Homo sapiens: one gene and its partner. The protein of the gene in region 1 purifies or fractionates together with the protein of each later gene. This does not show direct contact. Each region holds a gene or a part of one and is shown in the gene's direction. Other genes may lie near its edges.

What was found.
Region 2: the proteins of NUP42 (region 1) and HELZ purify together in Homo sapiens (affinity purification with mass spectrometry; one large-scale study listed by BioGRID and IntAct). This does not show direct contact.

What each region holds. Positions count from the first base shown.
Region 1 is NC_000007.14:23,188,066-23,193,084, forward strand, and holds part of NUP42 (nucleoporin NUP42), read left to right. Parts: intron 1-5,019.
Region 2 is NC_000017.11:67,234,650-67,239,668, reverse strand, and holds part of HELZ (probable helicase with zinc finger domain), read left to right. Parts: intron 1-179; 5' UTR 180-236; intron 237-5,019. UniProt on the Homo sapiens protein: May act as a helicase that plays a role in RNA metabolism in multiple tissues and organs within the developing embryo.

The sequences.
Region 1 (5,019 bases):
ACCGGGCTTTCCCAAGCCCACTCTGGGTGTTCCTGGGCCTCCGTCCTTTTGAGGAAACAGTGGGTACCTTGCAAATGGGAGCTCTTGCAATCAATATCGCAGAACCTTGGGATCTTTCCTCTGTCTCAGTTCTAGTTGCTCATTTTCTGTGAGCATTTGCATTACAACGCTTCTTATTTATTCACTTGTCCATTTAACAAATATTTACTGAATTTCTTTTGTGCTAAGTGCTAGGAATATAGTGATGAGCAAGACAGACAAGATCCCTTCCTTATGAATCTTACATTCTTGAGGGAGGAAAACAATAAGTGATGCAAATAAACTAAGATAATTTCAGATAATGATATTTTCTATAAAGAAACCACAAAGTATTAAGCCCTTAATCAGCTTAAGTATTAGTACTTGAGTATTAATCCATTCCAAATTGAACCTAATGCCTGTTGCCCTAAAGCAGTGGTTCTTAAAATGTGGATTCCTGAATATAGTTGTCAGATAAAATATGGGACATCCGGTTAAATTTAAATTTCAGATAAACAGTGTTTTTAGTATGTGTACATGCCATGTAATATTTGGGGCACATTTATACTAAAAAAAGTATTTATTGTATATCTGAAATTCAAATTTAACTGGGCATCCTGTATTTTTATTTGCTAAGTCTGGCAACTTTATCCCTGAGGCCCTTTTAGGAGTTGCCTGAGTTCAAAAATATTTTCTGATAATACTAAGTGATTAATTGCCATTTTTCACTGTGTTGACATTTGCACTGTTGGTGCAGCAGCATTGAGGAGTAGAACTACTTGTATCTTAGCAAGAATCAAGGCAGAGGCAATAAATTACTAGTAGATGTCACAATAAAAAAATGTTTAATGCCATTTGAACTTAAGAACTTCCTTTATGAAGAGATAAAAATTATTAATTTTGTTAACCCTTGACCCTGAGTACGCACCTTTTTAGTATTCTGTGTGACAAAATGGGAAGCACACAAAAAGTGTGTCTGCCCCATGCCCAAGTGTGATGAACAATCTTGTGTAATTGTTCAAGTTGGACTGAGCTAGCCACTTTTTTCAAAGACAATATTTATTTGAAAGGAATGACAACTATGGTTATTTAGAAGAAAACAGTTGATAGTGTTTATTGCCAATGAAAAAAATTAAAACTTTCAAGCAAAAATTGAAATTACGGAAAACTTTGTCATCGTGAGCATGATGGCTTCTCAGTACTTAAAATCTCTTCTGATTAAATGGATGGCAACATTCACAAATGTGAGGGCCACACGCAGCAGCTCATGCCTGTCATCCCAGTGCTTTGGGAGGCTGCGGTGGGAGAATGGCTTGAAGCCAGGGGTTTGAGACCACCTGGACAATATAGCAAGACCTTGTCTCTACAAAAAATACAAAAATTAGCCTGAGTATGATGGCATATGCCAAGACTCTTAGCTACTCTGGAGGCTGAGGTGGGGGGATCACTTGAGTTCAAGAGTTCAAAGTTATGGTGAGCTCTGATGGTGCCACCACACTCCAGCCTGGGTGACAGAGCGAGACCCTGTCTCTTTAAAAAATTTTTTTGGCTGTGCACGGTGGCTCACACCTGTAATCCCAGCACTTTGGGAGGCCGAGGTGGGTGGATCATGAGGTCAGGAGATGGAGACCATCCTGGCTAACACGATGAAACCCCATCTCTACTAAAAAATACAAAAAATTAGCCAGACATGGTGGTATGCGCCCGTAGTCCTAGCTACTTGGGAGGCTGAGGCAGGAGAATGGCATGAACCTGGGAGGCGGAGCTTGCAGTGAGCCAAGATTGTGCCACTGCACTCCAGCCTGGGTGACAGAGTGAGACTCTGTCTCAAAAAAAAAAAAAAAAATTTTTTTGATGTTGTATAATAACGTGCCAATGTTTAGAAGTTCTGCATAACTCAGTGAACTGGCATTTTTCAAATGACTTATATGTGATATTACAAAATTATGCATGGCTGAAAGTCCATTCTACATGCATGATAAACCAGTGAATGTTAATATAATGCCACAAAAAGTTCATTAGTATGGCTTGAGTCTATGTTATAGTTAACCTTTAAAAAACTACCACTTGTTAAGTTTTGGTGTAGTATCAAAGAAAAATGTCCACAGTTATTTGAAAAAGCCATTTAAGTCTTCCTTTTCCAATACGTGTCTGTGTGAATGCCCATTTTCTTCATACACTTCAGTCAGAACAACATATTGCAACAGAATGAATGCAGAAGCATATGTAAGAATCCAGCAGTCTTCTATTAAGCCAAACATTAAGAGATGTATAAACATAAAGCAAGGCTATTCATCTTACTAAATTTTCATTTTTTGTTTTGGAAAATAGCTTTTTCATTTATGTAGATAAGTAATTGTTTTCTTACTTTTAAATGAATTAATACTAAGTTTCTCAGTTTTCATTTCAAATGTGGTAATTATCAATGTAAGTAACCCTTGTAAACAAACATTCTTTGGGGTCCTTAATGATTTTTAAGAATGTAAAGGAGTACTGAGACCAAAAGTTTGAGTACTTCTGTCCTTAGGCATCCATTGTATTAATAAATTAACTTTTTCCATGCAGCTATAATAGAATGATACTACTTTTGTCAATTTTGGCTTTTGTTGCCATTGCTTTTGGTGTTTTAGACATGAAGTCCTTGCCCATACATATGTAACAAACCTGCACATTGTGCACATGTACCCTAAAACTTAAAGTATAATAAAAAATAAAAATAAAAAATTAAAAAAAGAATGATACTACTTTTGCCCCATTTTGCAAGACTTGAGAAAATTATCACTCAAATCATTTTCTGTGTTCTGTGGTTTGGATGAGGAATTCTGGTTGAGCACAGCTGGAAGGAATAGGCAATTAGGGGAACAATATTTCTTTAGATAGAGTGGTTATCTATTCCTGGGAGACAGTATTGGAAATGAGTCCTGAATAAAGAGAGGGTATCAGTTATGGGAAGATTTGGGGAAAACATTCCTGGCAGTAGGACTAGCTATTGCAAAGGCCCTGAGGTAAGAACAAGGTTGGCAGTGTTTACAGACTAGTGGGGCCTGAATTACTGGAGGAGAGTAAACAAGGGAAAGTAATATGACAGTAAGGCCAGAGAGATAGCCAGGGGCCAGATCATGTTGGGCCTAATTGCACTGGGCAGGCAGCCATGAAGAACTTTAAGCAAAAGAGGGACGTGATCTGATTAGAAAAAGCTAACTCAGCATGCTGTGTGAGGGGGGAGAAAGGTCTGTTGGGAGCCGTGGCAAAAGTAGAGATAGGGAGACAAGTTAGAAGACATTGCTGCTTGTGACTAGAGTTCATAGCAGTGAAGACAGAATTGGTCATATTTGGGTTCTCTGTTGGAGCTTGAACTGGCAGGATGCTGATTAACTAGATATAGGGAAAGAGAAATCCAAGGTGATTCCTAGGGTTTTTTGGCCTGAGAGGTCAGTAAAGATGGGGAAGACAAGTCATTAGAAGGAATCCAGGGAAACATTTAGTCTTTCCTTTACTCTGAAGCAGGTGTCCTTGGAGTTAATAATAACTGGATTACAAGGAATTCTTTGTAGAAAATATCTTGAACATTTTTTGCCTTTCTTAGTAAGTTTGCCCAATTATAAAAGTTACAGCTTTTGGGCCAGATGTGGTGGCTCATGCTTGTAATCCTAGCACTTTGGGAGGCTGAGGCAGGTGGATCACTTGAGCCCAAGAATTTGAGACCAACCTGGGCAACTTGGCGAAACCCTGTCTCTACCAGGGTGTGGTGGCACATTCCTATAGTCCCAGCTACTCAGGAGGTTGAGATGGGAGGATCACTGGAGCCTAGGAAGTCAAGGCGGCAGTGAGCCACTGCACTCCAGCCTGGGTGACAGGAATGAGACTGTGTCTCAAAAATAAAAAACAAGTTACAGCTTTTGCTTTAGAAAACTTGGAAAGTACAGAAATATATAAATAAAATAAAAATAACCTGATATCACAGAGGTAACTACTACATTTTAGTATATTTCTTTCGAAACATATACACACACAAACATATTTCTTGTTTATGTATACAATTGACCCTTGAACAACATAAAGTTTAGCGGCACTGATCCTCTGTGCAGTCAAAAATCCACGTATAAGCTTTGACTCCCCAAAAGCTTAACTACTAATAACGTACTGTAAGAGAAAAGAAAATGTTAAGAAAATCATAACGGATCAGGCGCGGTGGCTCACGCCTGTAATCTCGGCACTTTGGGAGGCTGAGGCGGGTGGATCACAAGGTCAGGAGTTCGAGACCAACCTGGCCAATGTGGTGAAACCCCATCTCTACTAAAAATACAAAAAAAATTAGCCGGGCTTGGTGGTGCATGCCTGTAATCCCAACTACTGTGGAGGCTGAGGCAGGAGAATTGCCTGAACCCAGGAGGCCGAGGTTGCAGTAAGCCGAGATGATGCCACTGCACTCCAGCCTGGGCAACAGAGCAAGACTTCATCTCAAAAAAAAAAAAAAAAAGAAAAAGAAAATCATAAGGATAAGAAAATATATTGACCATTCACATAGTGGAAGTGGATCATCATAAAAGTCTTCATCCTTATTGTCTTTATGTTGAGTAGCAGAGGGATAGGTGGGTGTGGTCTTGCTGTCTCAGGAGTGGCAGAGGCGGAAGAAAATCCCTGTACAAGTGGCCCCTGTACAAGTGGACCCTGTACAGCTGTGTGTACAGTTGACCTTTGAACAGAACTGCAAGGGTCCACTTGTACAGGGATGTATAAGTTGTTCTATGTGTGTATATATGTATACCTATGTGTCCGGAATTGGTGGGTTCTTGGTCTCACTGACTTCAAGAATGAAGCCACGGACCCTCGCGGTGAGTGTTACAGTTCTTAAAGACATCGTGTCCGGAGTTTGTTCCTTCTGATGTTCAGATGTGTTCGGAGTTTATTCCTTCTGGTGGGGTCCGTGGTCTCGCTGGCTCAGGAGTGAAGCTGTGGACCTTCGCGGTGAGTGTTACGGCTCTTAAGGCGGCCCGTCTG
Region 2 (5,019 bases), on another chromosome or scaffold:
TCTTTGGAGGCTTATCTCAAGACTCTTGGTCTAGTGCTGGTCATGCTACATTTTATTGAACTAGTGTGGACCAAAAGACCATATGCTGGGAATATTGGATACAAATGCTTTGGAACTGATATCTTGGTGAATGGTGTTTTCTACTATGTATTAAAAAAACTTTCTTCTTTGTCTTTCAGAAATTATAAAGAGCTCTGATGGGCTATTTGGGTGATACCCAGTGCAGTGAACTGCAGGTGAGTAAGGTTTAGAACTTTATTTAGAAAACAAGAATTTTATAATGCCTGAAAGAATAAGGTGGGACAAGGGTGAAGTGATACAGGGCTGTAGTGAAACAGTGGTAACCTGAAGGCACAGATCCTAACGGAATCGGTTACTTCTGGAACAGACTGAATGATGAACAAGCTCCGAAGAGACTGCCTGCTGCCTTGTCAGGTTAGTGTGTGAAATGAGTGAGGGTAGGTTAATCTTCCACTTCTGTTCAGATGAGTAACTGCATAGGGGCTCAGCTTATCTGCGTGCTATTGGAACTTGAGAGGTCCTTCAGTTTTTGTGTCAGCATTCTTGAGTGGCGATTACTTTGTGCTCCAGTGAACTTGGTTAAGTATTGAATTGTTTTTCCTGTTATCTGCTATTTACATAGTGTCATGAATGACTGTATATATCTGCAGTTTTGAGGATCTAAATATGGAGAACATATCAATAGAAACAAAAGGTTGAACTTTTTTTCCTAGTGGTTGTACTACCTCTATTGATACTATTAGTCTTTCAGATTATTTACTTTTTGCTGAAATACCTGTTAATTAAAAACAGTTTAGTCTTGAGTATTTATTATTTCACAGTAATTAATCTTCTTGGTCAGCTATGGTGTCTTCGTCTTTCATTATTACACTTAGAAAATGGTAATACTACAGAAATAAATTAGAAGGCTTTTAATACTTTCCTTATGAGGCATCAGAGTTAAAATTATTATTATTTTTTTGAGACGGAGTTTCGCTTTTGTCACCTAGGCTGGAGTGCAATGAATGGCACGATCTCGGCTCACTGCAACCTCCGCCTCCTGGGTTCAAGCAATTCTCCTGCCTCAGCCTCCTGAGTAGCTGGGATTACAGGCGCCCGCCACCATGCCCAGCTACTTTTTGTATTTTTAGTAGAGCCAGGGCTTTACCATGTTGGCCAGGCTGGCCTCAAACCCCTGACCTCAGGTGATCCACTCGCTTCGGCCTCCCAAAGTGTCAGGATTACAGGCGTGAGCCACCGCACCCGACCTAAAATTATTTTTAAATTAATTTTCTTCCTTTTTTTTTTTTTTTTTTTTTGAGAGACAGAGTCTTGGCAGTGTCGCCCAGGCTGGAGTGCAGTGGTGCAATCTCAGCTCACTGCAACCTCTGCCTCCCAGGTTCAAGCGATTCTCCTTACCTTAGCCTCCCAAGTAGCTGGAATTATAGGTGCCTGCCACCATGCCTGGCTAATTTTTTTGTATTTTTAGTAAAGACGGGGTTTCATTATGTTGGCCAGGCTGGTCTCAAACTCCTGACCTCATGATCCACCTGCCTTGGCCTCCCAAAGTGCTGGAATTACAGGTGTGAGCCACCATGCCTGGCCATGAATTTTCAGTACTTGTCTTTTGTGAGATATCTTCATCCGCAAAAAGCTTCAGGTCTTTTTTTTTTTTTTTTTGAGATGGAGTCTTGCTTTTGTTGCCCAGGCTGGAGTGCAATGGGGCGATCTCAGCTCACTGTAACCTCTGCCTCTTGGGTTCAAGTGATTCTCCTGCCTCAGCCTCCCAAGTAGCTGGGACTATAGGTGTGCGCTACCACGCCTGACTAATTTTGTATTTTTACTGGAGATGGGGGTTCACCATGTTGGTCAGGCTGGTCTCGAACTCCTGACCTCAAGTGATCCACCCGCCTTGGCCTCCCAAAGAGCTGGGATTACAGGTGTGAGCCACTGTGCCGGGCTAGCTTCAGCTCTTAATAAAATGACTTTCCATCCTCCCTTTTGCACTCTGGCTAAGACTTAAAAGAATATCTCCAGCTATTTTTTTACTCATCTGGTTTAAGCTGGACTTTTTAGCTTTGTGTTTTTTGTAGTTAAAAAAAAAATCTATCTACATTTTGCTTTTAATTGTTCTCAGGTCTCCTGGCCCCTGGTTCTTTGATTGTCTGAGTCCACACTGCCTTTTAACTGATACAGTCCACTGCTAAGTCAGCAAGTTAGCCTTGAGAATCCCAGAGACTTTAATGTGGCAATATTGTATATTTTTAGGGTTTACAGTGAAACTTGGGCTGACTACTTGCTGATTGGTTAAAGTAATAAATAAGTAAATTGTTAAAGTAATAAATGTTAAACTAATAAATAAATCAAAAAAATTGTTTTTTTTCGAGACAGAGTCTCACTCTGTCGCCCAGGCTGGAGTACACTGGTGGGATCTCGGCTCACTGCAACCTCTGCCTCCTGGGTTCAAGCGATTCTCTTGCCTCAGCCTCCCTAGTAGCTTGGGACTTTGCCATGTTGGTCAGACTGGTCTCGAATTCCTGACCTCAGGTGATCCACCCGCCTTGGCCTCCCAAAGTGCTGGGATTACAGGCGTGAACCACTACGCCCGGCCAGGTTCTTTGTTTCTTGAGTGTTCGCTTGTTTTGCATGATTTGTCTCCCACGGGTTCATAGGGATGATCAGAGGACCAATTGAGGCAGTTGGCTGGTCCTTGAAAAACTGGGGTTTGGGTTAGTATAGGTCATCATGACCAAGGAGAGTATGAAAACACTCAGTCAAGGCCAAAGTGAGCAGTAGAAGGGAGGGGTGGTCCTTTTGAGACTTTATCAAGCTTGTGTCCTGGAACCCCTTCATTTCCTTGGTAGGGTAGAACTTTATTATTTAATGTTGAATAAATTGATAATAAATAAATTGTTAAATGTTGGGTTATTATCCTAAGACAATTGATTTTCTTTTTGGCATTTCATTTCAAAATATACATTTTAAAATTCATTTTAAATTATGATACATTATAGTTTGATTTTTAAAAACTTACTATATCATGAAACATTTACATCTTATAGATTTTATAATTTAACTTTATATATTGAAAGGCTGCAAAAATAATTTCATCAAGTCATGCTACAATTTACCTAAGTCTTTTTATGTGAAGTATTTATACTGCTGTCTGGGTGGTTTTCAGTTAACACTTTAATCTACATCATTGTAGATACTGTTGCATTTTTTCTAATGATATCTTAAGGATAAATTTTGGAGTGTGTTATTATGTTAAGGGGTATCAGTGTTTTTATGGCTCCTCACATATATTGTCCTACTGTTTTCAAGGGTGTTATACCAGTTTGTGCTCCTAACAGATATATGGATATACCTGTTTTACCATAAGTAGTAGAGAAAACCATTTTTCTTCAGAAGTTTTTGTGAATTTAATAGTGTAAAATGGCACTTTCATTTCTTTGTTATATAATGTTGAATTTAACTATTTGAGCCTCTTTATGGTGAACTGTTTGTTGATATCAGTTGCTATATTATGCAATTAACTATTGTAGGCTTTGAATGGTAAGGCTGGTATAATATGGTCAGTAAAAATTGTTCACAAGAGTGTGTGGTCGAGGCTGGGTGCAGTGGCTCACGCCTGTAATCCCAGCACTTTGGGAGGCCAAGGCGGGCGGATCAGGAGGTCAGGAGATCGAGACCATCCTGGCTAACACGATGAAACCCCGTCTCTTCTAAAAATACAAAAAATTAGCCGGGCGTGGTGGCAGGTGCCTGTAGTCCCAGCTACTCGGGAGTCTGAGGCAGGAGAATGGTGTGAACCCGGGAGGTGGAGCTTGCAGTGAGCCGAGATAGAGATAGCACCACTGCGTACAGCCTGGGCAAAAGAGGGAGACTCCGTCTCAAAAAAAAAAAAAAAAAAAAAAAAGAGTGTGTGGTCAAAATGGTAAATGATCTTGGGAAGAGTGTTTGAAGGGGAACAGATGGATTATTCCAGGATTCAGTTCAGCAAGTATTTATTGGGCATCTGCTGTGAGCCCCTTTGTATCACTGCTCCTCTGAGTGGTTCTCAAGTTCTTGTGATGGCATGTGCTGGGTTGAAGCAGGACACTGCTTGAGGCTTGACCATTTGTGGGTTCTGGCTTCTGTTGTCTCTCTCTTTTTTTTTTTTTTGTGAGGGAGTCTCGCTCTGTTGCCCAGGCTGGAGTACAGTGACACGATCTCGACTCACTGCAGCCTCCGCCTCCCTGGTTCAAGTGATTTTCCTGCCTCAGCCTCCTGAGTATCTGGGATTACAGGTGCGCACTACCATGCCCTGCTAATTTTTGTATTTTTAGTAGAGACGGGGTTTCACCATGTTGTTCAGGCTGGTCTTGAACTTCTGACCTCGTGATCCACCCGCCTTGGCCTCCCAAAGTGCTGGGATTACAGGTGTGAGCCACCGCGCCCGGCCTTCTGTTGTCTCTTTGTGGCTGCTTGGATTGCTGAGAAGACCACCACTGTCTAGGCCATCTTTAACTCATTCAGGGCATACCAGTGTGCCATGGCACACCCTTTGAGAAGCTCTGTTCTGAGGGATCCAAACATGAAGGAAACATTGTTCCGTTGACAAGGAACTAATTATCTGTAGAGAGAATGGGGCACCCCAAAATGAAAGGACTAATAGGAATTTCATAGGTGCCATTGAAGGGGGCCATACAAGGTACTTCGGGATTAAGTGGAGGGAGCGATACTGCCTTCTTGGGGATATCAGGGAACACTTCCACTGAAGAGGTGGCATTTAAATCACACCACCAGGAAGCCGAGAAGCAAAGGGAAGAGGGCATTCTGGAGGGAAGTCTGGGGGTTATGTCAGAAATGTGGGTGTCAGGAAATTGCATATCCAAGTTTCCTGGGTCCTAGGATACATAAAGGAATATAATGGAAGGTAAGACTGCCAATAGGTCAGGACTGGGTTTTGGGGAGTTTTTTTTTTAATATTTAACTTTTTGTTATTTTTATTTTTTATAAAGTTAGGGGTCTTGCTAT